Regions from separate parts of the Homo sapiens genome. Here all the other regions are reported to be linked to region 1. Evidence: microRNA targets listed by miRTarBase, many of them from high-throughput screens and not tested one by one. Region 1 holds a microRNA gene; each other region holds the end of a gene's coding sequence.
What was found. The annotated mature microRNA hsa-miR-7-5p reads UGGAAGACUAGUGAUUUUGUUGUU and lies in region 1 at 1,884-1,907, opposite strand. An mRNA with a match to its seed (bases 2 to 7 or 8) in the 3' UTR can be bound and repressed. Matches are read on the target gene's strand: a 7mer-m8 pairs with bases 2 to 8, a 7mer-A1 pairs with bases 2 to 7 and ends in A, and an 8mer does both.

Region 2: miRTarBase lists KRTAP11-1 as a target of hsa-miR-7-5p. Seed matches in the 3' UTR shown: 7mer-A1 at 4,287-4,293.
Region 3: miRTarBase lists SAMSN1 as a target of hsa-miR-7-5p. The part of its 3' UTR that is shown has no 7-base or 8-base seed match.
Region 4: miRTarBase lists MRPL10 as a target of hsa-miR-7-5p. The part of its 3' UTR that is shown has no 7-base or 8-base seed match.
Region 5: the mRNA of SLC29A2 is a reported target of hsa-miR-7-5p. Seed matches in the 3' UTR shown: 7mer-A1 at 3,412-3,418.
Region 6: the mRNA of ILF2 is a reported target of hsa-miR-7-5p. The part of its 3' UTR that is shown has no 7-base or 8-base seed match.

What each region holds. Positions count from the first base shown.
Region 1 is chr15:88,608,677-88,613,762 of GRCh38, reverse strand. It overlaps MIR7-2 (microRNA 7-2), which reads right to left and starts at 1,938; the gene lies at 1,829-1,938. MIR3529 (microRNA 3529) reads left to right here and starts at 1,839; the gene lies at 1,839-1,916. It also overlaps a transcript of AEN not described here. RefSeq lists an enhancer at 45-729.
Region 2 is chr21:30,876,683-30,881,768 of GRCh38, forward strand. KRTAP11-1 (keratin associated protein 11-1) reads right to left here and starts at 4,898. Exons shown (of 1, transcript NM_175858.3): 1 at 3,962-4,898. The coding sequence starts at 4,842. The coding sequence ends at 4,351.
Region 3 is chr21:14,481,815-14,486,900 of GRCh38, forward strand. SAMSN1 (SAM domain, SH3 domain and nuclear localization signals 1) reads right to left here. Exons shown (of 8, transcript NM_022136.5): 8 at 3,414-4,300. The coding sequence ends at 4,098. All of the region lies in intron 1 of LOC124905053 (a long non-coding RNA gene), which reads left to right. Among named protein-coding and RNA genes, the nearest start is that of SAMSN1, 62 kb to the right of the region's middle.
Region 4 is chr17:47,819,952-47,824,951 of GRCh38, reverse strand. It overlaps MRPL10 (mitochondrial ribosomal protein L10), which reads left to right. Exons shown (of 5, transcript NM_145255.4): 5 at 494-1,680. The coding sequence ends at 747. It overlaps OSBPL7 (oxysterol binding protein like 7), which reads left to right and starts at 3,158. Exons shown (of 23, transcript NM_145798.3): 1 at 3,158-3,286; 2 at 4,587-4,748; 3 at 4,856-4,981. The coding sequence starts at 4,674. RefSeq lists an enhancer at 2,700-2,869 and a silencer at 2,980-3,195.
Region 5 is chr11:66,359,402-66,364,487 of GRCh38, forward strand. SLC29A2 (solute carrier family 29 member 2) reads right to left here. Exons shown (of 12, transcript NM_001532.3): 11 at 4,824-5,023; 12 at 3,120-4,146. The coding sequence ends at 4,035. B4GAT1-DT (B4GAT1 divergent transcript) reads left to right here. Exons shown (of 2, transcript NR_135761.1): 2 at 3,868-4,363. Among named protein-coding and RNA genes, the nearest start is that of SLC29A2, 9.8 kb to the right of the region's middle.
Region 6 is chr1:153,658,163-153,663,248 of GRCh38, forward strand. ILF2 (interleukin enhancer binding factor 2) reads right to left here. Exons shown (of 14, transcript NM_004515.4): 11 at 5,053-5,086; 12 at 4,857-4,971; 13 at 4,543-4,633; 14 at 3,626-4,394. The coding sequence ends at 4,234. SNAPIN (SNAP associated protein) reads left to right here and starts at 541. Exons shown (of 4, transcript NM_012437.6): 1 at 541-724; 2 at 976-1,022; 3 at 1,286-1,404; 4 at 3,038-3,690. The coding sequence starts at 582. The coding sequence ends at 3,139. RefSeq lists an enhancer at 307-386.

The sequences.
Region 1 (5,086 bases):
GGAATCTGAGACTCAGAGATGTTAAGTGACTGACTCAAAGTCACACAGCTCGTAAGCAGTGGAGCCAAGATTGAAACTGGCACATGTTTGACTTCAGAGCCAGGACTCCCCCCACCACTTAACAAAGGCTGTCATATCCATCCCTCAAATCAGGAATGCACCCCACATCCCCCCCCGAGATGCTTGTTTCACTGAGACACAATCTCTCCCCGTTCCATCTCCAAACCAGCCCCAGAGGCTGAGGGCTGCCCAGGAGAGACTCAACTCCCCTCCTCTCCTGTTCTCCAGCTCTGCCCTTCCTGCCCAATCTGGGCTTCTCTCCCGCTGTGAAGGACAGATACCTGCTGAGTGACACCAATTTGCAGACTTCTGAAGTGTAAATGAGATTTCTAATAGGACTGGCTTCCCACTGGCTTCAGGCAGGGTTAGGAGTAAAGGGAAATTTAAGACTGGAAGTGCAGAAGAAGAGAGCCAGTTTGTAGGATAGGGAGCAGCAGAAGCAGAGGCAGCCAAAGTCTCTGGGTAGAAGTGAAGGGCTGACTTGGTTCAGAGAGGTCAAGTGCCTTGCCAGAGGTCACACAGCTAGCAACCGGAAGAGGTAGAATGAGCTCAGCTAATGGTTGCATTTTTAGCATTCCCTAAATGAGTACGATCCCCAACCCCCAACTTTAGTTTGTAATATGCTTTAGTCTCCTCTGCTGTATGGATGGAGGAGGGTGGGAATATACTTAGGAATAGGGAGGGCATTTGGATTTGTTGCTTGAAAATTAATCTCCACTGAAAGTGTCATCACTGTAACTTGGTGCTCACCTTAGGGCAAGGTACCCCCCAGGCAGAGGGATCCCAGGCAGAAAGGCTGGGAGGCCAGGCAAGGTGGCTGATGCCTATACTCCCAGCACTTTGGGAGACCGAGGTGGGCAGATCCCCTGACGTCACGAGTTCGAGACCAGCCTGACCAACATAGCAAACCCCTCTCTCTACCAAAAATACAAAAAATTAGCTGAGTTGGTGGCATTCACCTGTAATCCCAGCTAGTCGGGAGGCTGAGGCACAAGAATCACTTGAACCCAGGAGGTGGAGGTTGCAGTGAGTCAGGACTGTACCACTGCACTCCAGCCTGGGACAGAGTGAGACTCTGTCTCAAAAATAAATAAATAAATAAATAAATAAATAAATAAATAAATAAATAAAAGGCTGGGAAATGCTTTTTCTGATCACTAATTCTAATTGTATTCCTGCCACAGTGGGGGATGGTCCCCAAGCACTGGGCTTTTTTCCCTTGGCCACACCTCTGGATGTAGCAGCACAGAGGCAGGTACTGGGACCAAGAAATTCCATACACACAAGTCCACTCCCTCAGCTGTGGAGCAGGCACCAGACAAGCTCCGAGGTCAGGTGTGTCCCCCCTGCTGCCAGGTACACTGAACATCCGGGAACCTCGGTCTCCAGTGCATACCTCTCGGTGCCCGCATACACTGTGGCTGTCGGGCCACAGACAATGAGGCCCTGAGCCCCAGGATGTGGAGTCACAAGGTGCCTCCATTATAGGTGCCCCAAAGTGATTGTTGGGGGAATTAGTAATTAAGGAGGGTTTTTCTCCCCCTGCCCTTCAGGTAGTGGTATGGAAGCAGTCCACTGCTCCCTGAAAACAGAGACCCTGCCCCACTTCCCTGCTCACACCATAGTTTGTCCATGTTTCTGGAAGAGTCTGCCGATGGGTGTTTAGGGTGGTGACCTGAGATGTTTTCTAGGAAACACAAAAGATACAAAAAAGAACACGTGGAAGGATAGCCAAAAAGGGGGGCTGCCCCCATTTCCTGCACCCCGCTGCGATGGCTGGCACCATTAGGTAGACTGGGATTTGTTGTTGAGCGCAGTAAGACAACAACAAAATCACTAGTCTTCCAGATGGGGCCAGCCGGTCCACTCTGTATCCAGGCCAGTTCTGCAAGGCGTTCGAGGACCACCCCCCTCCCCTCGCCACCAGGTCAGCGGTCTGGATGCTCCTTCAGGCGAGGCGTTGTCTCCGCTCCTATTACTAAGTTCATCTTTGAACACCTCTCCTCACCTCAGAATTCCCTGGAGAAATTATTTTTTCTTACTTTTCCCTTTTTTCTGGAGTGTTCTACTTTCTATAATGGACACAGTTGTTTTGTTTTGTTTTGGTGAGACAGGGTCTTGCTCTGTCACCCAGGCTGTAGTGCAGTGGTGCAATCACAGCTCACTCCAGCTTCAACCTTCCAGACTCGAGTGTTCAAGTGATTCTTCCACCTCAGCCTCCCTAGTAGCTGAGACTACAGCTAATTTTTTTTTTTTTTTTTTTTTTTTTAGTAAAGACAAGGTCTCAGTATATTGCCCAGGCTGGTCTTGAACTCCTGGGCTCAAGTGATCCTCCTGCCTCAGCCTCTCAAAGTGCTGGGATTATAGACGTGAGCCACTGCACCCAATTTGAGCATATTTCCTTTACAAACAGGGGAATTATTTTTAAAGAGAAGCAGGCAAGTGGCTCATTTCTCTCTTTCCTTTACTAATCATAAAGCATTGAACCACCATGCAGAAGAGAAACTAGAGCTTGGAAATGGTGACCCCTCTCTACTGGTGCCTCCCCCTTCTGGAAGCCTATGGGCATGGCCCATGGTGAAAATTCTTCCTGTGGTTACTGAGCCCTGGAAGCTTCAGAATGAAGTCAGAGTGGTGGTGCTGGGGTAAGCAGAGCAGGAAGAGGAAAAGGGGAAATGGTTGTGGACAGGAGGCTGGTGGAATCCTGGCCCAGTCATCCCCTCCCTGCAGGCACAGCGCTGGGCTCCCTGGTTAATTTCCCTTGCAGTGTGGCACTGGTGGAGGAGAGGCAAAGCCCCTGCTGCCTGGGCCAGCCTCTAATTGCGCTGGCAGGACACATCCGCTCCTTAATTAGCAAAAGCCACAATATCCTGGCGGCTCAGAGAGCATGGCCCTAATTGTATTTCTGCAGCAACTGAAGGATAATTACCCTTCCCTATTGGTGCTGCTTTTAATTCTTTCTCTTTTTAATTGTGAGCACTTCCTCTTTAGCCCACCCTTCCATCCTTGGGTTTATTCTCTCTATCCAGAATGGGGGTGGGGGCTTGCCTGGTGATGGAGACGCTCAGGAGCAGGAGGAGTGGGGGGAGTCATGGAGAAGACTGGCAATACCTAGCTCTGAGTCCCAGCCCCTTCCAGCTGTCAGCCTGAGACAGGGCACATCTCTGCCATGGGTCTGAGAAAAACCAAGAAGTTCTTTTGTGGAAGATGTAAGGGAGAGGTGTTCCTCCCCCAGAGGCTCTTTATGACCCTCTTCAGTCTACCCCGCAGTGAGGTGCTGGCTCTGAAATTCCCAGCTGTAGAAAACTGAGACCTCCTTTCCCCATCCTTTAATCTATCAAGAAACAGAGATGGATGTGTGGTCTTTAATTTCTTTTACAAAAAAAAAAAAAAAATAGCCCCGTGCCTCTTTGCCACTGTTGAGAGGAGGGTTAGTCCTTCAACCTTGAATTGTTTTAGAGACAAGGACCTGAGGGTACCATTAGAGAACAATGCTAACTAAGGTAACCCCTTGGTTAATAGGAGAGCTTAGCACCCTAGGTATTTCTAGGAAAAACAGGCCTTTCTTAGGGACCTGGCAAATAAACTTTGAGAAGTAATAGACAAGCTAAAATGCACCACAAAGAGAGTTTGGAGAGAACCACAGCATCTCTCTGGATGTCAGCTTGCAGGACTGACTGATCTAGCTTACATGAGCAACCCTGGCCCTAAAGCCACCACCCAAACCACTGCCCTGCTAGAAGCTCACTATGAGAGCAGGGACTCTCACTCATTATTCTTCCAAGTGCCTCGCGCACAGCCTGGCCCGTGATAAATGAAACTGGTTGGCAAAGAAGCAGAGTTCAGAGACAGAGTAGGATTGTGAGGTGTGAACAGGGTAAATCCATTTTCATTGGCTTTTTCCTTACAGATCCAATGAAGATGAATTTGAACTGATTGTGGCCCTAGTTTTCAAAATTCTTTAATTCTGGGCTCTATCTGAATTGGGAGAAGATGCAAGCAATAAAAGAGGCTGCTGTAGTCTCAAAGAAATATATTTTGAAAAAATGACCTGCCCTTGAGCCCACCAACTTCCACTCCCCACTTCTAATTTCTTTCCTCTGAATTTAGAGCTGTTCCCTTAGCAACGCTTGTTTCCATGGTTTCCTCCATGACAATGATCCCAAACCCCTCCTCTCTTTTACCTCATGACAGTAATGGATGATGGGGATCCTCAATGTGGCCACTCCATGTTACCATGGTAACAATTAACTGAGCCTTAATTTATCTTTTGTGAAGAGGGCTAGGGAATATGAAGCTTTTGATTTGGAGGGGGAGGGTCCAGGTCTAGAGCTACCATTCTCATAAAGAAGAAGATAAGCTATTTGTCTTAATACTAGCCAGTAGGATTTAGTTCAAACATTTGTTCAGCCCTACTTTAAGCACAACTGAGTTTGAGGGAATCAAAGGGGTACAAGACATAGCTCCTAATATTGAAGGGCTAATAGTCTAGCACTAGGGCTCATGGTACCGCTGAACTCTGGCACAGATGGGGCCAATAAAGAATATGGCTCTTGATAGCACCGTGATGATCAGGCATCTATCCATTCCCAGTATCCCCTCCTGCCAAGAACCAAAAAAAGACTGACTGAAGTGGTCTGTACTCACATTAAGACTTCTTCCGGGCTGTTATCAGAGAGTTTCTGTCCTGAAAGGGAAAGAACTTTGACTTCCCCTCTTTTAGGGAAGTGGGGACCAATGCCAGCATCCCTGAGTAGGACTATTTGGTGCAGGAAAAAAGAGAAAAATAAACAGACCTGCCCATTGCCAGTGCAACAAAGGACTGGGATAATCTCCAGTTCCAGGATAACCATCACCTACCTGCAACAAGTCTTCCTGGGAAGCGATGAGTCAGCTCTTACATTGAATTAAAGAGTCATTGTCTCCATCCATTCAGCTTTTCTATTTGTCACTGAAAATTCAGGCCAAAAGCGCAGCTCTGAAGAATGAAAGTGGAAAAACAGACAAATAAAAATCAAAGTGAAGA
Region 2 (5,086 bases), not on the chromosome of region 1:
CAACATAGTTTCATTATAAGCAAGCAACATATAAGTAAAAGGATAGAATATCCATCCATCCTTCACTGATAACTTGCATGATGTAGCATCTTGGTAAGCCTTTATATGCATTGGAGGAGAAAAGTAAGGCATTTGGAAGTAAAATGTGAAGCCCTAAGGGGAGCAAAGCATATAGGAGAAGATATTGAAGAATCAGTGAGTTTGTCCTTCACAACCCAACTATGAGCTTCAGGAGAGCAGGAATAGTAATGGCTTTGTTTTCCACTGCATAACCAGCACCTCGCATAGAAAGTTGAAACATTAGAGGTATTCTTTATTTATTTATTTATTTATTTTATTTTATTTATTTATTTTTTTTTTTGAGACAGACTCTCGCTCTGTCGCCAGGCTGGAGTGCAGTGGCGCAATCTCGGCTCACTACAACCTCCGCCTCCAGGTTCAAGCAATTCTCCCGCCTCAACCTCTCGAGTAGCTGGGACTACAGGCAAGCACCACCACGCCTGGCTAATTTTTTTGTATTTTTAGTAGAGACGGGGTTTCACTATGTTGGCCAGGATGGTCTCGATCTCCTGATTTCGTGATCCACCTGCCTTGGCCTCCCAAAGTGCTGGGATAACAGGAACATTAGAGGTATTCTAATGTTTGTTGACAGAAAGTCAGAAGGGAGAGAGGGAGGAAAGGAGATGAAGAGGGAAAAGAGCAAAAGGAGATGGTGAGGGAAGGTGGCAGGAAGGGAAGAAGGGAGGGAGGAAATGAAGGGAGAAAAAGAGGGAGAAATTTGATTTTGAGCTGGGACATTGAGATAATGTCCCGAAGACAATGGCCAAGAGATTTCAGTCTGGAATGGAGAAAAGTTCTGGAAATAGTGACATGATATTGTGAATTTACTTAATGCCACTGAATTGTACACTTGAAAATACTTAAAATGACAACTTTTATGCTACATATATATTTTACCATGATAAAAAAAATTTTAATTAGATTTAAGTTGTTATCATCACTAGAGTATAAATGTTCTCTGTGTCCTCAAACTTTCTATAAAGTGTTAGAAACACAAATGCCTTGTGTAAGTGGATCTTAGTGAAAATCATGGAAAGGAAGTGTAAATATCTGAATCACGGTAGTCTAAACAGAAGCCAACCATAACATAGGAAGAAAATTCATGAAATGAACTAATTCTTCTCAAGTAGAAGCTCAGAGCCCAAGAAGGTAAGAAAAAAGTTAGACATCTTTCCCCAACCTGTCTACTCTCAGATTCCTCGGAGATGTTGGGAGCAGCCAAGACTTCCACCAAACAGCAAAAGGAGATAAGAGAGCTATTTTTGTTTCAATGTTAAATGACAGGATGGCTCAGCTGATACTTGGGTTACATGTGTATTATCTCAATTTACTCCTGAAAACAAAGGTGTAAGATGCTACCATTATCTCCGGTTCACACACAAATGAGCTAACTAAGGCTCAGAAACGTCGACAAACCTGCATCCAAGTGGCAGAACCAGGAAAAGTTACGCTCCTTCCCTGGAGCTATGAGATATTGGATACAAATTGCATTTCTAGGCTGTAAATGAAGAGAAAGAAATCATCACTGCCCTGTCTTTTAAAGGACTGTTCTCAAAAACAAACTTTGAAACTTTACAATTTATTATGTAATAAGGCAAAGAATGGAGAGAACTTCCAAAGTTCAAGTACAAATAGAATAGCTCTAATAGCAAAGAAGATGATTCCCAAAACAGAAATGAAGGCAAGAAAATAGCTTTGCAAGACAGCTACCACAGCCTTAAATGTTCACATTGTCACAATAAATAGCCCAGGCAAAAGCTTGCTCATATCTAACCATAAAGGCTATGTTCTTATATATTATTAATATAGAAATGTTATCTATTAGAGCCAAGTAACCATCTAAATAAAAAGATAAAGAAGGTACCTCTGTCTTTATATTTTTTATTGAAATCTAGAAAGCTGAAAGTTAAAAAAAATTAATCTGTCATCTTCTTAAAAAGTGGGAATTTTCCAAATTATATGTGAAGTGACTAAAATAAACAACAAATGAGAATCATGTAATAACAGTTTTGAAAGGGCAATGTAGAGTTCCCCTAGTGATTTCTATTTTAAAATAAATCAGAGCATTTCCAAAAGCCAGAGTGCTTATTTTAAAAAGAGAGGGCATGAAACTAATATAGACTAAAAACCATGTCTTGCTTTGTTGAGATATTACCATGAGCCATGCATACTAACATAATCCAATTAGGGGAATCCTAAGAGTAGAGCCATCAATGGGAAAAATTAAAAATATTGCATCTATATGGAAATAATCTATATATTTCACCTCTGAAAAACCATCAGAGAAATAAGAAATCCATTTTGCACTGACAACACAGAGTGAGATCAAATTCTCCACAAGACACCAGCATTTCTGTTATGAAAAAAGACACCCATTGTTGATGGCATGTGTACCTCATATGTCTCCATTTTGTGTAAAAATCATCTGCTTTTGTATCTCCTTGAGCAACTCTGAAAAGAAAATCAAGATGTTTTTCTGGACAGAACAAATGAGAAGGGCAAAAGCAAACCAGTTGGTAGCCAGTCTTCACTTCCTTAAAAAAAAAAAAAATGGCAAAAGGACTTAGCATGTCAACCTCCACCTATCCAGATGGTTTGATTTATTTAGTACACGAGTTCCAGGGAAGAACGAGCAAGAAGTATGACTAAGTATTAATATAAGCCAACAGGTTTTTAAGCTTCTTTTTAAGTCTCTCCTGCCCAGATTTACTAAAACACAGAGCTTTAATTTTCTCAGGGCTCTGACTCGAACAGTCAATTGGTATCCCTCGTTGGCAGATTCTACTAATCCACTACCATGAGTGAGGTGGGTATAAAGCTAGAGCCACTCTTTTGATGTGATTAATTTCAGGGCCTGAAAAGTGCCTTCTCTTTCTTTCTCCTTCTCCTTCCATCCCGATTGATCATGGAGGAATCTTTTCCAAAGGTTTCTACTGTGATCCTCTAACTAAATAAGACTCAGCACTTCTCAGTGATCCCACTGCTCCCTTCCCTGCACATCTTTCTGAAATACCTGGTTTTCTGGGTAACTTTTCTTTTTCCTAAATGTAAGTTATTCCATGTGCCCCTAGAAATGGAAGGAGACGTAGAAGACAAGTTACTCCTAGAAATCTCATAGCCCTGGCCTGTAATCCCAGCACTTTAGGAGGCCGAGGCGGCAGATCACCTGAGCTCAGGAGTTCAAAACCAGCCTGGCCAACGTGGTGAAACCTGTCTCTACTAAAACTACAAAAATTAGCCGGGCGTAGTGGTGAACGTCTGTAATCCCAGCTACTCTGGAGGCTGAGGCAGGAGAATCACTTGAACCCAGTAGGCAGAGTTTACAGTGAGCCAAGATCGTGCCACTGCACTCCAGCCTGGGCGACAGAGTGAGACTCCATCTCAAAAAAAAGAAAAAAAAGAAAAAGAAAAAGAAAGAAAGAAAAGAAAAGAAAAATCATAGCCCTTACTTCACCGCACAGCTGAAGACTCTCTCTGAACAAGTAAAATATAAGATAATCCTTGGTTTGGTCACAGGGCATAATGATTAAGCCCATATTCTAGGCTCAGGAAAAAAAAAATCAGACCCTGATCAGCAAAGACTCTTGCAAACAAGGAGCTCTGTTGAGAAAACTAAATACCACCTGTTCTCACTAATAAGTAGGAGCTAAACATTAGGTACACGTGGACATAAAGATAAAAACAATAGACACTGGCAACTGGAAGAGCGGGGAGTGAGGAAGAGGAAAAGGGTTGGAAAACTACCTATTGGGTACTATGTTCAATACCTGACAGATGGGTTCAATCATACCCCAAACCTCAGCATCACACAGTATACCCCTGTAGCAAACCTGCACATGTACCCCGCAAAAACTAAATTAAAAGTTGAAATGTTTAAAAAAGAATTCTGCTGAGACATACATTTGCAATGCCAACTAATGCAGGTTTATTGAGAAATACATGGTGAGACAAGCTCTGTTTTTGTGAGACACAAAAGCAGAGGCCAGGAGATACAGCAGCAAGGTGAAAACATGTCAAAAGCATCAGAGACTGGGGTGTGGATGGTAAAGCTTCTGGACACATCCAGAGGCATACACAGCACCAGTGAGCAACCCTTAAAACAAGCTTAGGGCTGGCCAGAAAAATTTTAGAGTGCTAAAGACAGCGTGTGCATGGATAGTAGCCAGCAGTCAGGCGGTCACAAGAAGGGTCAGCTATGAAGAGCTATTCAGGGACAAGCAGCATGCTGGAAGATCCTGGAAACAGCTGGCAGGTCGTGGAGTCTTGATTCGCTCACTGGCTCCTACACACTTAGCAGGTTCTTCGGCAGCTGGACACGCAGGACTGCTGATACGTCCTGGAGACCCCACAGGCTGGCTGGCAGACAGTAGAGACTCCTCCCACTGGTTGGCAGACAGTAGAGATGCCGCCCACTGGTTGGCAGACACTGGAGATGCCTCCCAGGGGCTGACATCCACTAGAGACAAAGGTGAGCGGCCGGCTGTAGGTAGTTGAGCAGGGGTTGGAAATACAGGTAGTTTGTCGAGAGCAAGTCACCTGGCAAGGGTTGGAGACACATGAAGTTCGCCGGTAACAGGTTGGCTGGCAAGCAGTGGGCTCACAGCAGGTCTCTTGACAGTGGTCCAGGAGCCAAGAGCCAGTCTGGAAGGAACTGGGCAAACAGATGCCGCCCAGGCAGTCAGCATCAGTGGTGGAAGTCGTGGTAACTTGGGCCACTGGAACAATGCAGCGTCCTCCAATGGGCCTGGAAGAGCAATTTCTTGTGGAGCAGTTGAAGGACATGATGTCAGACAGAGGGCTGCAGGTAGCTTGCTGAAGTTACCTCCTGAGTTGTGAATGTCACTCCAGACTCCTGAGCTTTTATATATCCTTGCTGGTGGGTGGGGCTCTCTCCCTGGTCTCCGTGGCTTCTTTGGCTCAGACCAGTTTGCCTTAGAACATCTTGTGAATCTACACATTAATTGTCTCTTAAGAAGCCTTCACCCTCATAAAGAAAGTTTAGTAGTTTGGTAACTAAATCACAAGT
Region 3 (5,086 bases), not on the chromosome of region 1:
CTGCAAGTCCATGCCTGCATTGTGGCAGCATGTGCACTGCTTCCACTGAATGTCCAGACATCAATGAATAAAAATGAAGTAGTGGATATAATAGCAGTAGTTGTTTTTATGCACATACTACATGCGTCGTGCTGTGTGCTTTACACACATTATCTCATTTAATTGACAACATTTTGTAGATTAAAAAAAAAAGACTAAGCTTAGAGGATAAATGACCTGCCCAGTCACACAATTCTCAAACCAGATGCTTCAACTCCATGATCTCCTCCAGTCTCTATGTTTAGGTGAACATTGGGTGTGATCAGAGAAATTCGGCAGTTAAATAGGAGGTAACATAAAAAGAGGGTTGCTTTTATCTCATTTCCATAGCCAAAAAACCTGGTCAAGTTTAGAAGCTGCTGTTCTTTTACCTACATTTAGTCCCTATTCGTTTTGCTCTCAACCTTTACGTGATTGTAGCGTGACTTCCCACTTTATGAAAGAGTACTTGAAGTCTGTATGCAAATTATTCAAGTTTTTTGATGGTTGTGGGGAGGATGGAAGTGCGTGCGTGTGTGAGGTGATGGAGTATCTAAAATTTCTTCCTATTATTTTTCTCAGAACTTCTGCTTGTAACGGAAGTTTCTCAACATGAAATGTCATCAATTTGGCCTCATTCAGGAAGTTGCAGGGCACTTGACTGTAACCTCAGTAAATTGTACGTTTTCTGAAATCCTGATAATCTTTAGCTGCCTATCATTTTGAAATTTTAAAAGTTATTTTATTTCTGAACTAACTCCCTTGGCAATTTAATTGATTAAAAGAGAAAAGATTATAATGAAATACTTCAGAATGTAGATATATTCATCTGTACATTACAAGGGGAACTCAGAATTTAAATGATCTGATTTTTGTATTCATCAAAAAATTACTATGAGGATTTTATTTATTTATCTGGAATAAAATTCCTCTAACCATGCATATTGTCACAACATACTTGAATTTACAAAGATACGGAATCTCTGGGATCAGAATAACGGTATATTCTGATCTGTGTATATATGAAAGACTCAGTGGGTTCCAATGAGAGAAGCTATGCTATGATTCTCATGCGGTTATATAGTTAAAAAGACCTTTGTTGGCATAGTCTTGGACAGCATACATGTTCCAACTTTAAATATTGCTGAGTGAATAAATAAACATATGAGACTGGGAAATGTCGTCAGGGTTCAACCTAGAAACACAAAGCCAGTATCATGATCTTGTAATTATTATAATGTTAATCCTTTAGCCATCTTAAAAGGCTTGGACTCATGTCTCTCACTCAGCCAAAAGCAGCAGAAGGTCCAAGTTCCTCAGCTACCTCCCAACCTTGGATGAGCCGTTTCTTATCTTTCCGCTGCTCTTTATTCAGCTTTCCATGGCCAAGAGAAAAACCTGTCTTCCTTCTGTTGATGTTCCCTGCCCCACGTTGAGGGAGCTGAGGCGAGAGCTGCAGAGGATCCGTAAGGAGCTGTGGGTAAGGTGAGGACAGCAGCCCTCCCTTAATGTGGAGTATACGTCCGCTATTCTTGTGTCCTTTTTAGTGCGGAACTCCGTGATGAGGCCTTCCTCCTGACCACTTGAGCCTCATGGTGTCTCCTCTTTTTAGGAATCCAATCTCTCTTCCTGTGCTTCAATCTCCTCAAGGGCTCTGCAGCACTTCCCCTCAAAAGCATTTCCCTAAATCCTTGACTGGGTACCAGACCTTCATTTTTAAGTGATTGAAGTTGTGGCTGAGTATGCGTCATGGGCGATTGCCACCGTTTTAAAGTCAAGTAGTTTGTTAGTTGCTCCCCAACTTACAATTTCCTGGCATCTCCATAAAGAAGCTATCCTGTCTTGATCTCCCTGAGGCAGCAGGTGATTAAAGTTTTAAAATCATGGTTAGTGACTGCTGTGTTTAAGGAGGCCCCAGAATAATCGATTTGGAGTGGTAGCTGTAGCAAGAGTGGGGTCATGATGGAGGCAGCACCTTGGAAAACTGAAATGAAACACCATTTCATGCTGTGAAGGGGGAAGAATAGAGGTAGACATGTGCTTTAGCCTCACCTGGGCACTGCATATGCGGTTAAATCTCAGGGGTCTGGAAAAATATGCCGGACGTTAGCAGTGTAATGTTGTCCTCCAGCATTTGAAATAACACTTTGTGTTTCCTGTTTTTTCCTAAGGTATTACGTTTTATTGGTTAAAAAAAAAATAGGTCACTTTGGAAGGTACTTACCTACAGTACCTATATAAATTGAATGGATCAATTTAAATAGGAAGATGGAATCTGTTATATAGGAATAATCATCATATTCAATGCCCTCTAGCAAATATTTCCTAAGTGCCCACTGTGTGCCAGGTATTATGTTAGGCACCAGAGATTAAAAAGGCTAAACAAAATAATCTCTGTCACAAGGAGGTCACAGTCTTACGGAAGGGCAATTGTCATACAAATATATAAAGCATAATATGACAAGTGCTATGAACCACAATTTACAAGTTGCTATGGAAACACAAAGAAGAGAGCACCAAAGGGAATCATGGAAGGCTTCACAGAGTAAGTGACCTTTAGGATGGAGGAAAGAGGGAGACTTCCTAATGTGGAAAATAGCAGGAGACACTCCAGGAAAATAAATAGCATATGGAAAGTCACAAAGGGAAGAAAATTGCAAGTATATTGTTATGGCTGGAGTGTAGATTGAGAGGTGTGTGTGTATGGTGGTGGTGGTGAGGGGGTAGTTACAATTCATAAGGTAGGTAAAAAGCAATTGGGGAAGACCTTATGCAGCCTGGAAGGAAGTTTGGATATTATACTAAAGACAATGAGAAGCCCTCCAAAACTTTCAAGCAGAAAAGTACCTGATTTGATTCATGGATTAGAAAGATTTATCTGGAGGCTGTGTGGAGGATGGATGAGAAGGTAGGGGGTCAGTTGGAAAGCTACTGCCATTTTCCGTGCATGAGATCATGAGGATCCAAAGCAAGACAACAACCATGGAAATGGATAGAAGGCCATGAATATGAAAGCATTTGTAGAGGTAGGATCCATAGGGCTTGATTACTTATTGAATTTGTATGAGGAGGATATATGTGAGATGAAGCAAGAAGTGATTTTCTGCTTTGATGACTGGCTGGGTGATAGTAGCAGTAAAGAGGAGTTGGCAATAAAAAAGCAGAAACAAATTTGTAGAGAAAATCGATGGTTTGGTTATGTTGAATTGAAGTTTCCTGAGGGTATCAAGTGAGTCAGATAAACATCACTGGGGTTCAGGGGACAGATGAGTTTGAGGAGGTTGAGATTATTGCTATGGGATGCACTTATATTACAAAAAGTGAGGGGTGTCTGGGAGGAGATATTTTCTCTAAAGTCCAATATTAAAACCCTTAAGTAACATTACTCTGGAAAATGCAATATGCAAATAGTTCTTTTTATTATTAACATTAGGGTATGTCAAATTTTAAAATATTTACACTTAAAGACAAAACATTTCCACAATTATTACAATTGGTTTCACTAAATCAGAAGTGACTACACATTATCTCTACTTTTATACCAGAAAACAAAATGAAGAAATCAACAAAATATAATTACTAAAACTCCACTGTGGATCAGGATAAAATGTGTCCAATATTAACTCACACTTTCCCAATAAGTATAAAAATGAATATAACATTGCTTGGACAACTTGTTTCAACAGCGAATCCTCTATTACTATTTGTTCAATAACATATATAAATTCAAAACTGGCAGGTATGAAAAAAGGTTACTTTGTTTTTTGCAGATACTGTACTTGTAAAATAAAGCCAAATAAAGCATATGTCACACATACCAAAGTCTTACATTTTGCCTTTCTAATACAAGCAAGTGAAATATTAACACATAGCATTTAAAATAATAAATATATATTTTATTGACAGTAATTTGGAATGTTAGAGATACAAAATTTTATGTACAATTATTCAGATTAAAACATTTAAACTTTAGGTTTTATTTACAAATATTTATCTTATCTTCCTCTCCTATTTGACGTTTTAGCTCAAGAAGAGTTAAAATGGAATGCATCTGTAGATATATAGTTGGGAATGCGTGTTCAGTCACTTGGCTCTGTGATAATAATCTTATGTACCATGTCAGACAGATTTTCAGACTCCAGATCCTCTTTGCCATTATCTGAATTTCCTGATGAGATATAGCAACCAGAGTCCCTTGGGCAGTCATCTAACTGTGACTTATTTAAGGAGATGTCTGAGCTCAAGGATAGGGGCTCAGGTTCATTTTCTTGCTCTTGAATAACTGTAAATGGAAAAAAAGGGCAGGAGTTAGGTAAAGCAACACAAAATCTTATTCATGTACTCATTCACTTTCAAGTATTATCCTATTTTAACTGTTCTAACCATGACTTCATTACAATGGAAAGTTCTGCAAGTAAAAGGTATCTTTGTTTATTACAAAAGAGATATTTGCACCCAAATATTCAAGCTACTGTTTTATTAGAAGCCAAAATTTGCCCTTCATTGTTCATTTGCAGTTTCATGGAATTCATGTGAACTTCCCGCATCAGCAAAGATCAATATGGACTCTCATTTTACATTAATAATAAGTTGCCAGAGAAAGCAGATTGTATCCACAGTGTGACTGATGCCTTGTCCAAATACTCCTTAAAGTATCATTAGAAAAAGGCATTTATAGTTTAAATGCACAATCCAAGTCAATAGTGATCTTTGTGAACAATTTTAGATTCATGATAATCTAGATTAATTAATAAATTATCACTATAAGTAAGAATGTACAGTAGGACTTCAATTATTTGGAAGTTAACTAATAAAACTTTAAATATCCAGAATTTTCCTATGTTTGCATGTATCACAAAATAGGCATAAGAAACCAGGTTGCTTTTAGAAAGTAAAACACCAAAATTTCCACTGAATCTACTTTATGAATATTTAGTCTTCCATATCTTTGTCTGTAGTCCTGAAGAATAATCATTTATTTTCAGATTGATAATTCTGCATTCTTAAAGCAGTGTTCTATATTCAACAGGCATTATCTTTTAGAAAAAGATTACTATTAGGGATATAA
Region 4 (5,000 bases), not on the chromosome of region 1:
ACCTCTACCTCCCGGGTTCAAACGATTCTCCTGCCTCAGCCTCCCGAGTGGCTTGGATTACAGGCGCTCGCCACCATGCCTGGCTAATTTTTGTATTTTTAGTAGAGACGGGGTTTCTCCATGTTGGCCAGGCTGGTCTTGAACTCCTGACCTCAGGTGATCTGCCTGCCTCAGCCTCCCAAAGTGCTGGGATTACAGGCATGAGCCACCACACCTGGCTGCCTGATTCTTATTTACAAGGAAGTTTAGGAAACACTGACTTAATAGGGGTCAGGGCCAGGTGGATATATTAAGAGTTTTCTGAGGGAAGAGTGAAGAAGTAGGGATCGATCCCAAGCAGAGTGGGTGTGGTGTGGGGCACAGTGGAACCCAGGTCCTGGGGAAGGCAGGATTTTGAGAAGGGCAATGGAGAGCAAGTTACTAGGGTCAGAATATTGTTTTCAGAGAAGAAAGGCAATCTGCAAGGAGCCTAACTGACCCTGTGTTCTTCCAGGTGGCTGCATTGATGACACCATCCTCAGCAGGCAGGGCTTTATCAACTACTCCAAGCTCCCCAGCCTGCCCCTGGTGCAGGGGGAGCTTGTAGGAGGCCTCACCTGCCTCACAGCCCAGACCCACTCCCTGCTCCAGCACCAGCCCCTCCAGCTGACCACCCTGTTGGACCAGTACATCAGAGAGCAACGCGAGAAGGATTCTGTCATGTCGGCCAATGGGAAGCCAGATCCTGACACTGTTCCGGACTCGTAGCCAGCCTGTTTAGCCAGCCCTGCGCATAAATACACTCTGCGTTATTGGCTGTGCTCTCCTCAATGGGACATGTGGAAGAACTTGGGGTCGGGGAGTGTGTTTGTCACTTGGTTTTCACTAGTAATGATATTGTCAGGTATAGGGCCACTTGGAGATGCAGAGGATTCCATTTCAGATGTCAGTCACCGGCTTCGTCCTTAGTTTTCCCAACTTGGGACGTGATAGGAGCAAAGTCTCTCCATTCTCCAGGTCCAAGGCAGAGATCCTGAAAAGATAGGGCTATTGTCCCCTGCCTCCTTGGTCACTGCCTCTTGCTGCACGGGCTCCTGAGCCCACCCCCTTGGGGCACAACCTGCCACTGCCACAGTAGCTCAACCAAGCAGTTGTGCTGAGAATGGCACCTGGTGAGAGCCTGCTGTGTGCCAGGCTTTGTGCTGAGTGCTGTACATGTATTAGTTCCTTTACTGCTGACCACATTGTACCCATTTCACAGAGAAGGAGCAGAGAAATTAAGTGGCTTGCTCAAGGTCATGCAGTTAGTAAGTGGCAGAACAGGGACTTGAACCAAGCCCTCTGCTCTGAAGACCGCGTCCTGAATTTCTTCACTAGAGCTTCCTCATCAGGTTACCCAGAAGTGGGTCCCATCCACCATCCAGGTGTGCTTGGATGTTAGTTCTCCACCCTCGAGGTGTACGCTGTGAAAAGTTTGGGAGCACTGCTTTATAATAAAATGAAATATATTCTACTTCCTTTATTTTGTGGTTTACACGGTTGTCCTCCCTCTAAACTTACTCTCAGGGGCTTCTCTGTCATCTGACTTTCCTCACTCTTGCTTCCCTTCCTAGGAAAATCCTCTTCCCCTATACCTGTTCCCACAAATGGCATCCCGCGCATGCTTGCCCTATTAAAGGCAGCTGACAGCTGTACCCACTAGCTAACGTGTCTCTGGTGGTTCTGGACAAAAGGCCTGCGGGAAAACTAGGATTCTCTATTAATGGGGAATTCTGAGAGCTCTAGGGTAGGAGGCCTCATGCAAGTCTTCATGAACCAGAAATTCCTAATAAAGGAGACGGGATGCTTAACTCAGAGTCCACCATCATCCTTGACTGGAGCACATTCTGGGTGGATGCAGGGGTGACCCGGGGAAGGTGGCTGTTCAACATTCCTTCTCGGACTTGAAGCAATGCCACCGCTTCCTTAGTCTTGGACAGGCACTGTCTGGCAGGGATGACCTGCAGCAGCTCTTTTGTGGCCTGGGCCAGGACCAGCTTCCCCCAGTGCCTCATCCTGTGCTGTATGCCCAGGGATGTTCAATCACTGGGAAGTGGCTTAAAAGGCCCTTGAGGCTCCTGGATGCCAGAGCTTGTCTGGTCAGTGCTGCCCAGTGCTCCTGTCCCTCCCAGAACCCTGCCAGGTGCTAACAACACCCTCCTCCTGGGGTGGCTGGAGCAGCACTGAGGCTCTGAATAAAGGCAAGACAGTGGGTGTTCCCGAGAGATATGTGAGACCCTGAAACGTAAACCAAGCTCGGTGAGGATGAAGTGGAAGGGATAAGTGGCCCATGTCACTTTTGGGGTCAGAGAAGAAACTTGAATCACATCCTTCACCTGAGGCCCCACCTACTTCTTTCCAGAAAACTTAGCTGCGCTTGAAACTGTAGGTCTATGCCACATTCATTTGAATGAATTTTAGATCTTTGTTAAGAGCCGATTTTTCATTAGAATTGAGCAGCTGGGCACAGTACTCCAGCAGAAGGGTAAAGGGAAGGGAGGGGACCAGCATTGCAGCCCTTTTAACGGCAGCTGTGACTGCCCCAGGCCTGCTCCTGATCAGAGACTGCAGGCTGTGGGGTGTCTTCATACACACAAGCACTTTCAGATCTCCATGGGGCCTGACCTAGTGGGGCATCACCCCAGTGAAGGGCCTCAGTGTGGGGACTGCTGGCTGTCCCTTTCCTGGCTTGACTGCCCCTGCTGACTGTGCTCTTGGCACTCTCTTATGGTCCCAGAGGGGGCATCTGTCCCTCCACCATCAACCTGATACTTTTGCTGGCTCCAAATTTTGCAGTCTATTTTCAGATGTAAAATGAGAGGCGGGGGGCGGGGGTTAATTAGGAATTGGCCTTGGGTACTAACAGGGTCACTGCCATGCTAGTCTGAATAAATCCTTTATCACCACTGGCGTACAGCCAACAGTTCCCCAGTCCTCTGATCTATCTGGAACCATGCCCAGCAGGGACTGTGCCCCCACTCCCAAGCCACATCGATGCTAGGGCAGTCTGCTCAGCCCTGAGTCCTCCGGGGAGCAGGGGGGCAGAGCTGAGCGGCTGCCCGGAGCTTGGCGGGAGGAGGGGACAGGGGAGAGGGAGGTGGGGAGATCCGGCTAGAGGGGAGGCTCTGACATCTCCTTCCTTCCTGGTTCCTGCAGCAGCTGCTGCCACTGCTCAGCGCGGTGAGGAGGGAGCCGGTGACTCGGAGACGGTGACTCAGAGGCAGAGCGGCGCAAGGGCCAAGGAGTACTGGCGTCCATGGACCCTGGGGTAAGGGGGCTGCGTGGCAGCAGCTGACATTCCTGAGAAGAGCTTCCTCCCACCTGAAGCTGGTGGGTCTGCTCCTGAATAGAGGTGGAGAGGGGGCACCCACCTGGCTCACCTAGACCCTTCACCTGCCTACCGATAGAGCCTCCCCCTCTACCCACAAGCAGTGAGGGGCCAGGATCCCCACAGGGCCGGGAGAAGGGCCCAGAGATACCTGAACACCGGAAGAGTTTGAGAACTTTCAATGGCTGAATGCAGGAGTTTCCTCCCAGGTCAGCCTCTTGCAGCAAGGGTCCCTCTGCCCCAACCTCCTGGGCACCCGTTCCTGCCACATCCCTGTCCCCTCTGGGCCTCAGTTCCTCAGGTGCTTGCTAGCTCCATTAGAAGATCTGGGCTGCTTCCCCCACCTCAAACCAGCCTCGCCCCTCCAGTCCCCTCCCCCGTCTCACACATGCAGAGCCTCATGCATTATTGATCTCCCGGTGGAGCCAGGATGGCCAGGGCCAGTGCCAAGGGTGCCTGTGGGCACTGCTGCAGGACCTGTGCAGACCTGGGCATGTCCTGGGCCCCCTCTTCTCTCATGAAGTATCTCCTTTAGCCCAATGTCCTGCCCTCTCTGGGTGGGTGGCACTTCTCAGAGCCCCAAGGACTGTGAGGGTAGACAGGGGATGGTGAGGCTTTAGGGGGTACTGAGGGTCCAAAAAGGGCATCCTAGGGGCATGTTTGGTGGGAGGAGACATGGGAAAATGGGGGCTATCTCAGGCCTCAGTTTCTCCAAGCACTAGATAATATGGAGATTAATTGGTGGGAGGCTGGGGAGTTTTCTGCAAGATCATGGCAGAGAAGTCTCTGAGCTACGGTGGCAGGGTGGAGGGGTCCTGAAGGCAGAGGCAGCTGGATTGAGGAGGTCTCGCTTGTCCAGTCTCTGAACCCCTCTGTCTCTTCTTGGAGCCTCTTCTGTCACTCCCTTGCTTCACCTCTGAGCACTCCCAGGGAAGCCTCTAAAGAAAGCACTGAATGTTTCTTGGAGCCCCAGAGTATGTGCCCAAGGCGGGGCTGGGCATATGTCTTGTGGTTTTCCCTGGGCACCTGCCCGTCTGCTGTGTGCTAGTTCACTCTCAGGGCAGTGTCCATATCAGGTGAAAATGGGTGGGGTCGGGACAGAGGGGCAGACTTGGGAGAGGCTTGGCAGGTGAGCAGAGGGTATGTTGGGGAGCCCTTATCTCAGAGGGTGTGGGAGGGGCTGGAGGTGGGGAAGGTGATAGCAGAGTTTGCGTTAAGGGGGTCTTTCTCTTGCTTCAAGGACCCCGTCAGGAGCAGGTGACATCCTTCCCCTTCCACCCTGCTCCCTGCTCTACATCCCCAGCAGGGAGTGGCCTCTCCCTTCTCCATGGACTTCCAAGAGAGGGACCCGCCCTTCCTGCCTGAGAGCGCTCAGTCCTCAAAGCCCAGCAGTGCTCAGCAGGTCAGAGAGTGGGAAAGCGGTGGTGGGTGGGCCAAGCTGGAACCAGACAGGGAGGGGCCAAGGCGGACGTCTCACCAGTGCTCCCCTCCCTCTGTCCTGGACTGCAGGCCTCTGAGCTGTGGGAGGTGGTGGAGGAGCCTCGGGTCAGGCTGGGGACAGAGGGTGTCATGCCTGAGAGGCAGGAAGGTCACCTGCTCAAGAAGAGGAAGTGGCCTCTGAAGGGCTGGCACAAGGTAGGGTGGGCAGGCAAAG
Region 5 (5,086 bases), not on the chromosome of region 1:
TCTGTAATCCCAGTTACTCAGGAGGCTGAGGAATAACTTGAACCCAGGAGGCGGAGGTGGCAGTGAGCCGAGATCGCACCTCTGCACTCAAGCCTGGGTGATGGAGCAAGACTCTTATCTCAAAAAAAATAAATAAATAAGGGGGAGTCTAGCCAGGTGACCTCAGTCAACAGTAGTTTGTTCAAGAAACCTTGAGAAGAAAGAAAGAGAGCAAGAAGAACAAGGATGCCACCTGGCTCCATCTAGGATATCATGATGACTCTAGTGACCACAAAGCAATTCCCCATTCTATTATGTTGTTGACCCTGCCTGTGACCTTGACCCTGCCTATGACCTATTCCTTCTAATGTGCCAGTAACCTCGAGACAACCCCCACTCATGTTGTGGCTTCATTCTCCCAAGAGAGATGATCTGATTGGTTCCTCTCATCAGGGAAGCTGGACCGGGCCACCTCATAGGCTGCTGGCCAGTCAGTGAGTGGCTGCCATTGCTCAGACCCCAGCCCTGGTCCAGTCAGCCCTGGCTAGAGATGCCATTCCCATACAAAGCAGGGCGTGAGGGTTAGGTAGGGGGGCCTCTGGGGCCACTCAAAAGGGGCCAAACTCTGACAACATGTGGCATGTTGAGGCAGGTGGAAAAGCAGATCACAAATGTCAAATGCTTTTCATGTAGTAGAATTCTTTTTTTTTTTTTTTTTTTGAGATGATCTTGCTCTGTCACCCAGGCTGGAGTGCAGTGGCGCAATCTCGGCTGACTGCAGCCTCCACCTTCCGGGTTCCAGTGATTCTCCTGCCTCAGCCTCCCAGGTAGCTGGGATTACAGGCGCCTGCCACCATTCCCGGCTGATTTCTGTATTTTTTTAGTATAGACCAGGTTTCACCATGTTGGCCAGGCTGGTCTCAAACTCCTGACCTCAAGTGATCCGCCCACCTTGGCCTCTCAAGGTGCTGGGATTACAGGTGTGAGCCACCATGCCTGGCCTCACGTAGTATAATTCTAACTACCAGTCTCCTCTTCCATAAAAGGGTCAGCAACTTGAGGGTAAGGATGTCTGTCTCCACTGAGCCCAGCTCAGTGCCCTGTGCAGTGCGAGTGTTTGCTGATGGAAACTGGCTGCTTCTGTGGGAATCCGGGCCTGTCGGCAGAGCTGTAACAGGGTGGGCAGGCAGCAGTAGCTGGGGACTAGGCATCAGGCGAGGGGCAGGCAGGTGTAGCCAACCAGTCCAAGAATTTGTTTCCAACATCAAAGCCCCTGCACCCTGAGCTGATGAAGTTGTGCTGGGTCTACTGGGAAGGAGGATGGGAAGACGGAATCCCAGGTTGTGACATCATGATCCTGAGGGGTAAGTGTCCTCTTTTTGGGCCCCATCCTCCACTGCCCAGCCCGAACCTGGGCTTGCTGTGGGTGACGGGTGGCCCCAGTGGGTTTCCTGGGACTGTCTGGCCTGGGAGGTGGGCAGGTGGGTGTCTGCCTTCCTGGTCCCAGGTGGATCTGGCAGGTCTAGGGAGCTTTTTTTTTTTTTTTCTTTGAGGCAGAATTTCGCTCCTATTGCCCAGGCTGGAATGCAGTGGCACGATCTCGGCTCACTGCAACCTCCGCCTCCCGGATTCAAGCGATTCTCCTGCCTCAGTCTCCCAAGTACTGGGATTACAGGCATGCGCCACTACGCCCGGCTAATTTTGTATTTTTAGTAGAGATGGGGTTTCTCCATGTTGGTCAGGCTGGTCTCAAACTCCCGACCTCAGGTGATCCACCTGCCTCAGCCTCCCAAAGTGCTGGGATTATGTGAGCCACCGCGCCTGGCTTCTAGGGAGCTTTTAGGTACAACGGACAACAGTTGTACTCTCCTCTGAAGGTAGAGGAGAAGGAGACTCAGCAAGTGTTGGGGTCCTGCCTCCAACAGTCCCAGAGAGCACAAGTAGGCCTATTGGTCTTGCAAGAGACTCCAAGACTCCAACAACCGTTTCCCTAATATCATCAGAGGTGGTACTTTAGTTCCAACCTCACTCCAGGACTCTAGCTCAGGCAGGTCATAAAGAAAAGGGCCTGGATTTGACCTAGGACTCTGGCTCAGCATGCATGCACTTATCCACGAGGTTAGCTGGCCTCCATAGAGGCAGTCTCCCTCATATCTCCTGTATCAGTCGTCCTCTCTAAGCCACTGTCTAGGCCCCATCACCTCCCCGCTGGACTGCTGGGATCAACTCCTCTGTGGCTTCTCTGCTTCTGCTCCTCCTCCACCTCAGACTAGCAAACTCATATTCATCCCTCAGGGCCCAGCTGGGGAAATACCTCCTCTGGAATGGCTGCCCTGACTTCTCAGGTGGAATCAGTGGCTCCCTCGACATGCTTCTGCAGGGCCCTCACAAGACGTATCACAAGTTATATTTGGCTTCCTGTGGCCTTGGGAGCGGGGACTGTGTCTCCTTTGTTTCAAAGTCTCCAGACCAGGCAGGGCCTGGCTCGGGGCAGCTGTCTGTGAACAGTGCTCAAAGGAATGAATCCTTCCTTGGGGTCTGCCCTGTGGCTTATTTCAGCAACCAAGGTCATATCTTGCCTGTCTTCCTCCTTGATGCCAAAAAGCCCCTGGCTTCTGAGCAGGTACCCTGTGCTGGCTGAGCACCTAATATCTAATAGGTGCTCAGTGAATGTTCACAAAGGCAGGTGGGCAGAAAACCCTTGCTTTTCTCTGGGACGGGCAGGGTAGTATAGGTGTGTGGTGAAGCAGGCCTTTCCTCCATCCGTGTGTAGAATTGGTGGGGTCGCCAAAGCCCTGCCCACACTGACTGCCTCTCTAAGGCCAGATTTCCAAGGAGGAGCTATCCTGGGGAGGCAGAGGATGCTGGTGAGAGCCCAGGGGCTCATGGAGTGGGAGAGCAATAGTTGTCCATCCAACTAGGTGCTCTGCCCAGGAGCTCAGGATTCCTTGCAGGTCAGTACCCCCCAGCTATCATGTGGTCCAGAGGACCCAGCACAGAGATGCCCACCAATCCCTACCCCTCTCAGGGCCTCAGTCATCCCACCTGTCAAGGGGGTACAATCTTTCCGACCCCACCCAGTTCACTGAGGCCAATAGAGCCAACAGCACTTCGGAAATAAAGACTTGGTGAACGCATCATACAAATAAATGGGGTTATTAGACCCAAGAGCAGGGTCAGAAGGAGAAACAGCAAAAACGGGGAGTAAGTGCCCAGGCTCCTGCCCCAAACCCCTTGAGGAAAAGAGAAACAGGTGTTGGGCAGGAAGAACAGCACCAACAGGGAGGAGAGAGAGGGGATTGGGTCCCGGCTCTACCACGGACCAGTCACTTTCCCCAGGACTCAGTTTTGTCACCTGTATAATGGGGGAAGCACAATCCTTGCCTGACTCCTTCCAAGAGCCTCAATTAGGCTTCGGTGAGAGAGTGGGTATGGAAGAGCTTTGCAAACTGTAAAGTGCAGTACACACATGCAGGCTAGCTGTGGCCCTGGGGCCCAGGCCCAGCTGGGCTCTGCGGAGTGGGTACAGTAAGTGTTGGCAATGAAAACACTGCTTGAGGCTGAGCCTGGCCCTTTGAGCACCCTCAGGTCCTCCACATCTGTTCCTCCTCTCAGGTGCCCACAACTTCCCTGGCACCTTTTACCCTGGGTGGCTGAGGCCTGGGAAGATGAGGCGCTCCTGGCCTGGGCTGGCCCCGCCTCCCACTCTGAACCCTCTGGTCACCTCTGCTCCTGATGATGATGAACAAATGCAGACCTGGTGGTGGGGAGCAGCCGTGCCCTGCACCCTCTTTTCCCTAGTCATCACCCTTTCCATGAGGTCTTGTGCGAGTCACCCCCATTCCTGGGTGAGGGTTAGAATGACCGGTGGTGATTTCTTCCCCACAGCACTCCAAGTGGATGAAGAGCAGCTCCTGCCCGCTGCTGGCAGCCTCAGGCCCAGGGGCCTCCACCCCGCAGAGGCCTGAGCCAAGCTCGCCATTCGCCCTGGGCTGGATCTCAGCTCCGGAAGGAGACGTCGAGAAGAGGCTGCCAAAGAGCCTGGAGGGGCCACTTCAGAGCAGCGCCTTGAAGAGGAAGGAGAGGGAGGCTCCACAGGAAAGTCCCAGGGCCAGGAAGAAGGTCATGAGGGCGCCGGCCACCTCCCTCTCGTGTGGCAGCACCTGCCTAGAACACCCGGGAACAGGAGCTCTTAGAAAATGCTGGGTCTAAATCTGGACCCAGCTCCACTGCCCTCTGCCCATCCAGTCTGGGCTCTGACCCAACCCCTCTGTCACCATAACTGGCCCCTTCTTTCCGGGCCTCAGTTTCCTGGTCTGTAAATGAGGCTGCTGGATAAGGATGTCTCTCAGGGCCTCTGAGTCTAACATGATGGGATTCCAGATTCCACAGCCTGCCCTTTCCACAGTGCTCTCAGCCTGTCTGCCCTGCCAGCTTCATTCTCTCTGGATTCTCCACTCCATTGCCCCTTGAGGAAATAGCCCATGACCTTGTTTTTGGTCAAAACCTTAGCTCTCCTTCAACTGAGAATTTTACAGTTAGATGGGCCCTGAGGGATGACAGTTCAACCCATTTTTTTTTACAGATGGGGAAACTGAGGCACATTGAGGCGGCCCCAGAACCAGTGCCTGGGCTACTTGGTTGGGCGGGTACCTCCCTAGCCCAGTTCTCTCCCCTGCAGTTAAGGCTTGGCCCAGTAGGGGGCGCCAGCAAGGCCTGCAGACAGCTAGGGTTGGGCTGGCCAGAAGCAGGATGGGCCGTCCCTCCATTGCAGGCGGTCCCTTCCCAAAGACTGAACCCACCTCCCTACTCCCAGCCCCCCACCCCACCCCATTGCCCCGGACCTGGGCGCCAGGCACATGGTGAGGGACACCAGGTAGCCATTAGAAACGGCAAAGAGCAGCATGAAGGTGATGAAGTAGGCATCCTGTGGGAAGAGGATGGGCAGCCGGGACCTCTGGGGCACGTGGCACAGCATGAAGAGGGGCACGAACAGGAACCGCAGGCAGACCAGCAGGGGCAGCAGCCGGCTGTCCTCGTCTGGCTGTGGTAGAAGCTGAAGTCAGCATGGTCCCTGGAGCCAGGTCTCTGCTCCAGGGCATCTCAG
Region 6 (5,086 bases), not on the chromosome of region 1:
AGAAATAGAAAACGATACTATGAATATAATGTGGCTTTCTCATAAAGTGTTTTTGTTTTTGGTTTGTTTTTGTTTGGTTTGGGTTGCTTTTTTTTTTTTTTTTTTTTTTTTTGAGGCGGAGTCTCTCTGTTGCCCAGACTGGAGTGCAGTGGCGCGATCTCGGCTCACTGCAATCTCCGCCTCCCGGGTTCAAGCGGTTCTCCTGCCTCAGTCTCCCAAGTAGCTGGGTGCCCGCCACCATGCCCGGCTATCTCATAAAGTTAACATGGGAAGGCTATGGACAACTGCAGGTATTCGCGTTTATTTTCACCTTTAAAGAAAACGAAAAGTATCCACTCCAAAAACTGGTTCCTTTCTACAACCTGAACTTTGGAGATTTTCAAGACCAGCCACAAGGCCTCTACTCCTACGGCCTGGCCCTCCTCCCCGCCCGGTTCGCGCTAGACTCCATTTCCCAGAAACCCCGGTGTCTTGGTGGAGACAGCATTTCCCGGGCGCCCCCTCACGGGGCGGGGCAGTGCGGCGCGGCTCCGGTTCCCGGCGGCCCTCGCGGCAGGTTTCGGGCTTCAGGACAATTCGTGATGGCGGGGGCTGGTTCCGCCGCTGTATCGGGGGCAGGGACCCCGGTGGCGGGGCCCACAGGCCGCGACCTTTTCGCCGAAGGGCTGCTGGAGTTCCTGCGACCCGCTGTGCAGCAGCTCGACTCTCACGTACACGCCGTCAGGTGCCCGGGAGGGAAGTTGGGGGCGGGGCCTGTCTCTCTGGCTTTGTAGGGGCGGGGCCAAGAAAGTGTTCTGGCTGGGAGTGGGCATAAATTTAGGAAACTGATTCGAGGCGGGGAGGACAGGCGGGAAGGCCGCAGGTGGAGGGTTCAGCGGAGGCCGGCTTCTCTCAGTACTTGGTAAATACGTAGGGGAGTTCGTTTCCTGAGCTCCGGTAACTGCCTGACCTTGTAGGCCTTGTACCTCTTTGCAGAGAGAGCCAGGTAGAGCTCCGGGAACAAATTGACAACCTAGCCACAGGTGAGTGAGCATCCCTGTGTACCCGGAATTCTTCAGCCCACTTTCAGGACCTTAGGTTTTTGCCAACCCCTGGGCTGAGTTTCTGTCACTTGCTTCCAGGGCATCAGGGCTGCCAAAGGACTCCTCCTTTCAGGGATGTCTTAAATCTCTAATGGCTGTGGCCCGTTTGGGTGCAAGTGTTTTCCATCCCATTACCAGCCTGCTTTCCCTCAGAACAAGAGATAAGCCGTTAGATCTTAGCTGCACCTTACTTCCATCCCCAGAACTGTGCCGCATAAATGAGGATCAGAAGGTGGCCCTGGATCTTGACCCCTATGTTAAGAAGCTACTTAATGCCCGGCGACGCGTTGTCTTGGTTAACAACATTCTACAGAATGCTCAGGTAAAAGAATATCTTACCAACAGTGATTCTTTGCCCTTTTTTGTAAGTCCTCAACACAGTGAAAGCCACTGTAATTTTAAAATTCTTTGGGGAAAGGGAAATTCACTTCTCCCAGTACTTGAAAAATACCTAGGAAAATTCGTCTCATTCTCACTATTCAGTTGCTGCCATTTACATTCTTGTGTGTGTGTGTGTGACAGTCTCCCTCTGTCACCCAGGCTGGAGTGCGGTGGCTCAATCTCAGCTCGCTGCAACCTCCGCCCCCTGGGCTCAAGCAATTCTGCCTCCGCCTCCCGAGTAACTAGGACTACAAGCGTGCACAACGCCCAGCTAATTTTTGTATTTTTTTGTAGAAGTAGGGTTTCTCCATGTTGCCCAGGCTGGTCTGGAACTCCTGGGCTCAAGTGAGCTTCCCACCTTGGCCACCCGAAGTGCTGAGACTACAGGAGTGAACCACCACACCTGGCTATTTATTTTTATGATACAAGGTCTATCACCCAGGATGGAGTGCAGTGGCATGATAAAGGCTCACTGCAGCCTCTACCTCCCAGGCTCAAGCGATCCATCCACCTCAGCCTCCCAAGTAGCTGGGACTACAGGCATGCACCACCATGTCCAGCTAATTTTTGTATTTTTTCTAGAGACAGGGTTTCACCATGTTACCCAGGCTGGTCCCAAACTCCTGCATGCGAGTGATCCACCTGCCTGGGCCTCCCAAAACGCTGGGATTACAGGCGTGAGCCACTGCACCCGGCCTGCCTGGCCTTTTTTTTTTTTTTTTTAAATAAAAAGACAGGATCGGCTGGGCGCGGTGGCTCTTGCCTGTAATCCCAGCAGTTTGGGAGGCCGAGGTGGACAGGTCACCTGAGGTTGGGAGTTGGAGACCAGCCTGACCAACATAGAGAAACCCCGTCTCTACTAAAAATACAAAATTAGCTGGGCGTGGTAGCGCATGCCTGTAATCCCAGCTACTTGGGAGGCTGAGACAGAAGAATCACTTGAGCCCGGGGGACGGAGGTTGCGGTGAGCTGAGATCGCACCATTGCACTTCAGCCTGGGCAACAAGAGCGAAACTCCGTCTCGGGAAAAAAAAAAAAAAAAAAAAAAGACAGGCTATCACTATGGTGCCCAGGCTGTTCTCAAACTGGGCTCAAGTGATCTTCCTGCCACTTCCTCCTAAATGGTGCTGGGATAGGCATGAGCACCATGCCTGGCCTACATTTTTTTTTTTTTTTGAGATGGAGTTCTCCCTCTGTCACCCAGGCTAGAGTGCAGTGGCACGATCTCATTTCATTGCAACCTCCACCTCCCGGTTTCAAGCGATTCTCCTGCCTCAGATTACAAGCACCCGCCACCATGCCCAGCTAATTTTTTTGTATTTTTTAGTAGAGACGGGTTTTACCATGTTGGTCAGGCTGGTCTTGAACTCCTGACCTCAGGTAATCCACCCGCCTCAGCCTCCCAAAGTGCTGGGATTACAAGTGTGAGCCACCATGCCCGGCCTACATTCTTATATATACTTTTGAAGACTGACTTTGAGGTAGATCACGCCCGGTATTTTTCAGCACCTAGTTCACTTACACTCTCAAGCCTTTCACAGTGGTTAAGATTCCAAACCTTCCTTGTCTTGTAGGAACGACTGAGACGGCTAAACCACAGTGTTGCCAAGGAAACAGCCCGCAGGAGAGCAATGCTGGATTCGGGAATTTACCCCCCTGGCTCCCCAGGCAAATAACAGATGAGCCTATGGACTCAGTAGCACAAGTACTGTTCCCCAGCTGCCTTGTTTCAACAGACATGCAAAGATCCTAGGAGACAGTCCCCATAGACCTTCAGACATTAAAAAGGGAGCCGTACAGTTTGTTTGAAGCACTTCGTCTTACCCATTTATGTAGGGGCCCCAGGAAACCTACACACAGCCAGAATGAGGTTCCCAAAGGACTTACATTAATTATGGCTCTTGCTTCCTTTCACAAATGAGCTGAGGCCTCTACTTTTTTTTTTAAGCTGCATACGTGAGGCTTACCTTCTTCAGGACTAGTTAACCAGAGGGGCTTCCTTTGTATGTTACATGCCTGGTTACATGGGCCTGGACAGCATGTCCTCTACCTGTGACTTCTCATTTTCCTGTTTACACTGGGGATTTGGAGGGGGCAGGCAAAGTCAAAGTGAATGACCTCTGTCCACCCACTTTTTTATTGCACTGGCTTGAATACAGTAGCAGTGTTGATAGAATCATTTTATTCAATAAATACTTAAAATGATATTCTAGTTTACTCTGGTATATGGAAAGGTTCCAGGAGTTTGTCCTTTAATTCAAAGACAGCTTCAAATTGTGATCTGAGTATTTATAATTAAATGACTCAATTATCATTTTCAACAAAAGAGTACACAAAGCCAAAAGCAAAAAAGGTTGCCACATGCAAAAAAACAAACAAACAAAAAACACCAACCAGAAAGACCAAGAGCCCTACTAGGAAGTACTTTAATAGTTTTTCTTAGAAAAAAAAATTTCCAGACACTTAACATTTCACAACATTTCAACAGCAAAGTATTAGTTGAGAGAGGGGTTTTCAGGAGTTGGAGATTATAGAATATTAGGAAGAAATGTTGGTATCCTCCATTATAGATGGATGGCATAGGTCACAAATGGGAGACTGGCAGCTAAGCCAATATCAAAACCCAGTGGAATGACACTTCTATGGAGTTTACTTTTCTTCCTGCTATCTTCCCTATCCCACGGAAATGTCTGTCACCATGTAAAGCCCAGTAGCAGGCAGCTTAGGCTCCAGTCTTCCCCCTTGGGTAGGAAAAGGAGTGAAGGGAATGTCACTCCTGAGTTTCCATGCTTTCTTCTTCCTCTCCTTGAGGTGGTTCTTCTGTATTCTCCTCTTCTTCCTCTCCTTCCTTCTTCTCTGGTGGCTTCTCATAAGCCTTTTCTGAAGGTGTTACTATCACTCCATCCCAGGTAGATATTTCAGAAGCAAGATCTAGGAAAGAGAAAAAGGTGATTTAGACGAGTAGCCCAGCATAAAAGTCATTACTTACACTGTGGAAATATTAAAGACATTTAAGTAGTGTACAGCTTCTCTGTACCAGATTACAATACAAAACCCCTGACCCACAGTGGTCACTCACAGCTGGCATCACCCTCCTGGCCAAGGATCTTCCTAAAGCCACCATGTGAGAGGATTCGGACGAGAGTCTGAGCTGTATAGCAGACCATGTCCTGAAGGAAAGCAAAGTGAGAGTAAGCAAGGAAAATCAAAGGACCTTATTTGAGTAATACCCTTCTGAAAACAGAGATTAAGACAGCTTTTTAAATCTCAGGACCAAAGTCTTTCAGAATCCCCAAATTCCTGACCCGTAAAGACCATATTCCGCTTTGCCTGCTGAGCAGCAGTATTCAAAAGAGTGGGGCAAAACAACTCAGTTCATATCTGTCCCAATACCTGCTGTTCTAGGGTCATGACTGTGTGTACTCTAAAGTTGCCACTCTCACAGGGGTCAGTGATACCCACTGAACCTGGCAGGAACAGTCCTGCAGCCAGAATCTGCAAGCAGCGCCTAGAACACAGGGAGGTATGAGGTATTAAAGGAATGCACAAAATAGTTTACAACCAACCCTAAACCCAAAGCATGCTGTACCTGTATGCAACGTTTAGGGCCAAAGGCTGTCTGG